2 linked regions of the Homo sapiens genome follow. The protein of the gene in region 1 purifies or fractionates together with the protein of each later gene. This does not show direct contact. Each region holds a gene or a part of one and is shown in the gene's direction. Other genes may lie near its edges.

Region 1 (3,653 bases):
AAAATTACGGTAATTAATAAATACTCCGGAATACCCTTGGCTTGTCTACCGTCCCACTTTTACTCCCCAAATAAATCGCTTCCCTATAAAAGTGGTTAAATGCTATATGATAGTTTAAAAATTCCATTTTGTTTACCATGTTTGTTTTTCCCTTCCCTCCCTTTTAGAGTTTCGTATTTAATGATTATCTGATGTTCTTACTTTCAAATCACAGACTAGCCACAGCTAGTTTGTCTTTATATGGCCTATTAATTAAATATTATGTGGTATCTTAATGGGGAATATGTTATTTAACTTAGGCCGAAGACTGTACTATGGAAGTTACACCAGGTGCAGAGATCCAAGATGGCAGATTCAATCTTTTTAAGGTGAATTTTAGTAAATTATCCTTGGTTGCTCTCATTTTTTGTTCTTGAGTCTGCTCCCATGCCACTACTCAAGGGACAAGATTAAAGTGGAAATAGCTACCTTTTTTCCAAACCTTCAGCTTCCTGGTGACTTACAAATTTGCTGATTGTTGTTTTATCTCCACTTTTGCAAGCATGTGAATTTATAGCCTATTATACTAACAAATGCCGAGTAAAACTATTGTTTGCTATATGTTGTGATTTCATTTTGAGTCGTAATACATGTTTGTAGGATAGAAAAGTTAGTGGCAACAGATTATGCTCTCATTGTAGATAATACTCTAATCTTTATCAACAGAATTGGAAACTTTTTTGTTCTCTTTAAAAAAATGGTAAGGAAGGTGGCATACTGTTTATCTCTATGACACTTATAACACTGATATCATTGGTGTAATGCCCTGATAGCTCAAGATATCTTCAAAAATCTTAGGCATTCTCTGAGAGGCTTTAAGAACTCAACATAATGAGATACTGCCATTGATTTTAAAAATTTGTTCTTAAAAGGAGTAGGTTTATGTGAGAGACTTTGAGGTTGATACTACAACTTGTATAACAAGTCTGATTTCTGGCTTCTCCATTCCATGGTATGATCACAGACCCAGTCCAAAGAATAATACTATATTGTCATAGTTCTTTTATGGAAAACTGATTGTGTACTCTTTTTTCTTTACCTTAATAGTTGACTCTTATATTGAATGACACTGGGATGAAGATTGGGAGTGGCTTTTAGATTGGGTTGTATACTCAGGGAACTTTAGTGGACTGGAAAGAGACCACTGCTCCCCTTTTGGGTTTGCAGCCCTGTCCACCAGAATACTGCCTTATGCAGTGTGTGTGCTATGTCTGCAGATACAACCACTCTACTGTACACAGTTCTATATAGATAATTTTATTTTAATTTACATCCTACTTTGCGTAAGTATTTGGTTCTTCTTTTGCAAATATTTTGAAAGTATGTGATGATGTCTGTTGTGTTTTAAAGGGTCATCAGTTTTTTCTGGGTTATATTGTCTATATAGGCATTGAATATATTAAACTTGACTGCAATGGGTAGAAAAGTTGTCTTAATGAACTAGTTCATTAGCAGCAGTGCATTTTATTTTCTTTTAATAGAAATGAGAACTGCCATCATAAACTGTTAGCTTCTGTATACTTCATTTTTTGTAGTAGACTTAAAAAGAGAATAAAAAGAAACTCCTAGGGGTCAGTCTCATTGAAGGTAGCCGTTATGAATGTGTATTTTATATACATACTGTGTACTGAAAAATTTATTTTGAAGTTTCTTTTGGCTATGTGAGAGGAGGTCATAGAGTATTCCATTCTGATTGGATTCTGAATGAAAGATTTTAATTCGATGGGTACAGTCTTCATGGTTTTCTTGCCTTGATAGTGTGTTTAAATACTAATATGTTTGGTAGAAATACTGATTTGGGAATAGGGTGTGTATTAAGAATATGTGTGGCAAACATTTTTTCTTTATGTATATTGTGGTCCGTAGGAAATGGTGGAAATAGGGCCATGATGAGCAGGACATTGATTTTAAACTAACCTGCAAACATTTGTGTAGCCAATAGGAAGCTGTTTGAAAGTTCCTGAGCAGTAGAATGAAGTGGCAGATCTGGTATTTAGAAAAGGAACTGGCAGCAGGATGGGCTGTAGAATGAAAGGGGTGTGAAACAGATAGGGAGCTGTTGCCATACTATGGGACTAAAATGAACTAGGGCCTGAACTCACTTATGAGGATGAATGGGCAAAGGAGTGGATTTAAGAATTAAAATTTATTTTCATATCTGCTGCAAATAGAATTTTTTCATCCTTAAGTGTGAGACAGCCCATCAGCCTCTTTAAGATAACTTTATTTACTTTTCATTAAACAATTTGCAAACCCAGTAACAAGTAGAATAGTACACATGAACCCTTAGGTGCTTATCATACAGCTTCAACACTTAACAGTGTTTTGACATTCTTGAGGTAACAGCCTTTTATGTACTTCAATATGAATAAAGTTTTTTTAAAAAGCAAAATAAAAGAAATTTAATAGGTATAAAAATAAAGCCACTCAATTGGGTACAAAAACAATTGTGTAATTATTTAATTAGAGTGAATGGCAAGAGAGAAGTGACTAGTGGGAATAGATAACATGTATGTATGAGAAAACGTTGACTACAACGTTTTCTTAAAATATTTTTTATTCATTTGTGCACATATGCATAGATTTTCCCCCCGGCCCCCCCCCCCCCCCCCGCCCCCGGCTGTGAATGTATGAGCTTTGTCACCAGTTTTCTGAAATTTTACAGTTATGTGTCTTGGTCTGTTTTCATCCATTGTACCAAGCATTCTCGATTTGGAAGCACATATCCTTCACTTATGGAACACTTTCTTCTTTTACTTTTTTCTCTGCTTTCTTTTCTATTCTAGATAATATTGGATATCTTCGAATGGTCTTCTAATTTTTTTTATTGTTTTTCTCTTTTTCATCTTTTCCATTATCTGGGAGAATTTTTTATTCTTATAATGTTATTGTACTTAGTTTTCATTTCTGTTGTTAATTTCCAAGAAAATTTTTCTTTATTATTTAGTTGTAGCATCTTATTATTCATGCCTACAGTAATGCAATATCTTTTTCCCTCCTCTCTCAAAGGATATTAATGATAGGCTGTTTTGTTTCTGTTAGATTTTTCTTTTCCTGCATAGTCTGTTTTCAACTTGATTATTTAAGTTAGTTATTTTTATCTTCTGACTTAGACTTTTCTGAAATGTTTGTTGATTGTTGGCCATTCACTCATGTAACGGTGGGCTGCTAAAATTGATTGGAAGCTCTGTACATCTGAATAGAACTTGCTTGACTGCAGGCTTCACTGGAGGGCTGTTTTTTCACATTCCCTGATGTCAGTATTTTTAGGTGTTTTTCTTTTTGTGGTAATCAGATTTTTTCAGATAAGGTATTCCAGTATTCTATCTAGAGGGTATATACTTGGCTGATGCAAATGTTCTGGTAGCTGGAGCTTTTAATTTCTGAATTTTTGAGGGTCCTGACATGATAATCATTGTCTTTGCTTTCTCATCGCTGACTTAGGATTCAGTTTTCTTTGGTCTGCTCAGTCAGTTACTATTTTTTAATCTAATTTCAAAGTTCTAAATTTTGTTGCTTTCTCAGTTTTTTTCTTATAGGTTGAAACAAAATTGTGATAATTTATTTATGGTTGTCTGTTTTTCCTTTTTTTGACTTTAACATGTAATGTTTTC
Region 2 (3,653 bases), on another chromosome or scaffold:
GCTCCTGATTAGGACTGTAAATGAGGTGAATGACTTAGAGGAGAATGTATATCTTTATAATATTGGGTCTTCTCATCCAAGGGCATGACAGGTCTCTCCATATCTTTTTAAGTTTTCTTCATATAAGCCTTGAACATTTCTTAAGTTTATTCCTTGGTAGTTTCTTTGTTACTGTTAATTTACTTTATTTCTTCATTATTATTTTTAACTGGTTACATTATTTTATTAGTTTACTATTATATGCCAAACTATTGATTTTACAAATACATTTCATAGTAAGAGCTAATGTTTACTGAATTCTTAACTGTGGCAGGAACTTCTAAGTGCTTAACATATATATTAAGTGTTATGTCACAGTTATGAACAGCTGCTCATAATGATGTCACTGTCTCTGTTTTACCTATGAAAAAGCAAACTCATACAGATTGCAGCTAGTGGTTGAATTTACTTATTTCTTTTTTGGTTTTTAGCTGATTTCTCTTTGGTTGCCTGGATAGCATTAACACCTGGAAATAAGGAAAATTTTATTTTCTCCTGATACTTGTAGTTCCTTTGTTTTTATAACCTTATTGAATTGCCCAGAACTTCTAGAGCATAATTACGTAGAATAGGCATCCTTGTCTCATTCCTGAATTTCCTGGAAATTCCTATGGTATTTTACTGCTAAGAATGCAGTTGGCTGTTGGTTTTGTATATATGCCATGTTTTAAAATTATTCTTCTGTTTCTAGTTCATAAAAGATTTGTTCCCCATTTGACATCTTTCAAAGAGACCTATTTGCTGCCATATCCCATCACTGATGATTGGGAGGGAGGATTTAGCTCGATTCTCTATTGCTCTGCTCCTAATAGAATTGTAGGGGCCGAGGTGACCAGGAGGCCCGACACTCATGGAGAGACCTGAAATAGGTTCCTATCCTGGCCCCTGGACCTCATCTTGGAACAGCTTTGGCTTGAGGTACTAGGACATCTAGGGCTTTGAGTCAGTGGTTGGCATCATCGATGTGGCTGAGGAAGGGGGCTAGCCAGATATATGGAGAATGGGGACTAGGACTCCCCTTTCTACTCAGCTCCAGAGTCCTCCAGGAAAGAAAACTACTTTGTTGGTTGTGCCAGGATTTCCTGAGAGATTTCTTACCCGTTCTTCAGTTCCAGACACTGAGAACATTTCTCTGTGCATGTGTGCATATGTGTACACATGTGTGTGGCTGGCCAGAGGGTAGTGTTAGGAAAAGATATATTTGAATAGAAGCCATGCAAAGAGCCAAACAAGGTTGGCAAACATGTTTGGCTCTTAACATGGCTTCTATTCAAAGATAAGCTGACCCCTCCTTTCCGGAGACTGTGAGGGACAGATGCTATTCTGGCTTTGAAGTAGAGCCAATGAGCTTAACTTGGCCTGTGGGGAATGCCTGGCAGCTGTCTGTGGGGTCTCTGGCCTGCTTTCAAAATAGCCCTGTGCTTCCCCTGGGGCAGAGCACAGCTGCTCAGAGCCTCTTTGTGGGTGTCAGGCCAATGCTGAGGCACAGATGTTTGGATGGGGTCTGGCTGTGGCTGCAGTTTTCAGGGAGGGACTGACATGAGCTGAAGCTCAGGAAGGGCCATGAGTAGGAGCTTGGGAGCCGTCTGTCCTGCTTGTGCTGGCCATCTTACCAGATCATGCCATAGCAGCACAGTGTCCAAGTTGGTCCATCTCACCCCCTTACTAGCCTTCTGGTCCATCTACTCCTCTCCATCCCTTCTGCCACCACCTGGCCCGGGCCACCATCATCTCTTGCCCTGACCTCTGTCGTGGCCTCACTAGCCTCCCAGTCCCCACTCTGGCCCCTCATTAGTCAACTCTCCATGAGGTATTCACAGTGATCCATTTTACATTCACATTTTGAGTGTCCCTCCCCTGCATAAAGCCTTCCCCATTTCTCGTTGGCCACAAGGTTGCATCTAGTTCCTAGCCCCTGCTTGTCTCTTCAGCCTGTTCTCTCTTACTACTTCCCATAACCTTTAATCCACACCTACTGCAACACCCATTTTCATTCCCAGGCCTCTGGATTGCTGCTCTTTCCCTGTTCCTGTAATGTTCCTCTACTTGGATAACTCATGTTAACCCTTCAGGCCTCAGCTAGGTGGTCTCCTCCCCTAGGAAGCTATTCTTGACACTATACCCTGAGCTTCCACAGGATGGTAAGTTCACCCATGCTGTGCTGCAGTTACCTGACTGGTTTTCTGCTTTCCCCACTTGACTGAGTTGTAAGAGTGCAGGGGCCATGTCTCAGTTACCTAGCATAGTGCCAGGCACAAAGTAGGCACTCATCAATATTTATTGAAATCAAGGGGAAGTGTGTTGGGGTGGGAGTACCTGGGCCTATGGCCCCACCCATGTGAGGTCATGAGGACAGTCCACAGCTGAAGCACATGGACCTTTGCCATGTTGGCTGGCTCTGGGCGGCGAGTCCCCCTTGGGGTTTCACTAAGCCTAACTGTGGAGGCTGGGGGAGATGAAGTAGATGCAGGGAGTGCATGTGTAGTGTGTACCTGTATGAGTGGGTGGCTTCCAGGCAGTGGTTCACTTATTTTAACTTACAGAATCTTTTCCTGGTTTTATCATCTGACTTGTAAGGATCCCAAGGGAGCGAAAACTGTGCCATCTGTCTTTGCTTCTTGAGGCTGTGGGAACCCAGTGTGAGGTGGTGCAGCAGGAGAGTGTTTGGATGGGTTTCTTGGCAGAGGAGCCCACTGAGGTTCGGAAGGATGGTGGAACTTGACTCAATTGAGAGAAGTACATAAGGCGGAGGCTCAGGCATGGTGGCACAGTCTGAAAATGGTGGGAGTAGCTAAGCTCAGGCAGGCTGTGCTCAGGCAGGGGTGGTATGTGGGCCTGGCAAGGAAAGGGGCTAGTCAGGCAGATGCATGGGTAGACAAGGCAGGCATAATTCTGCAGGCAAAGCGGACCTGGGGAGGAGAAGGGATGAGCAGTGACCGAGCAGGGCAATAGCCAGGAACTGATTGCGGATTGGGAATGTGGAGGCCTCAGACTCTTGCCCTCAACTGGCCTGCAGGATCTTGGGGCCTTGGCTAGAGCCATTGGCTGCAAAGCTTCCTCCACTAGCATGGCAGTAAATCTGGTCCCAGTGCTCTCTGGGAAAATATTCAAGGCAAAACAAACAAACAAACAAATCAAGTCTTCCCTCTCCTCCTTCCTTCTAGCTTGCACGAGCCACCGTTCGTGATCCCAAGACAGGAGTCCTCACTGTCGCCAGCTACCGGGTTTCCAAAAGGTAAGCAAAGAGCAGGGGTTCGTAGCTGCTCAAGCCCCAACTTCAGGACTTCTCAGTGCCTACCCTAGGGATGGGTGGCTTGCCTTTTCCTGCCTGCTGGCACCTCCTCACCCCCTTGCAGCAGGCATCCTGTACTGCCTGTTCATGCTGGCCCTGACTCTGGGGACAGAGTTCAGGACCTCATGGAAGCCTGCCCTTCCGTCTTCTTTTCTCTGCCCTTTTCTTTTTGCCCAGCTCCTGGCTAGAGGAAGATGATGACCCTGTTGTGGCCCGAGTAAATCGTCGGATGCAGCATATCACAGGGTTAACAGTAAAGACTGCAGAATTGTTACAGGTACAGATAGTACCTGGGACTGTAGGAGTTGGGAAGTGGGTATTT

The links.
Region 2: the proteins of FIP1L1 (region 1) and P4HA2 purify together in Homo sapiens (co-immunoprecipitation; 3 studies listed by BioGRID and IntAct, with this or other methods). This does not show direct contact.

The regions. Positions count from the first base shown.
Region 1 is NC_000004.12:53,391,131-53,394,783, forward strand, and holds part of FIP1L1 (pre-mRNA 3'-end-processing factor FIP1), read left to right. Parts: coding exon 1-9; intron 10-299; coding exon 300-368; intron 369-3,653.
Region 2 is NC_000005.10:132,203,703-132,207,355, reverse strand, and holds part of P4HA2 (prolyl 4-hydroxylase subunit alpha-2 isoform 2 precursor), read left to right. Parts: intron 1-3,203; coding exon 3,204-3,274; intron 3,275-3,508; coding exon 3,509-3,608; intron 3,609-3,653. UniProt on the Homo sapiens protein: Catalyzes the post-translational formation of 4-hydroxyproline in -Xaa-Pro-Gly- sequences in collagens and other proteins.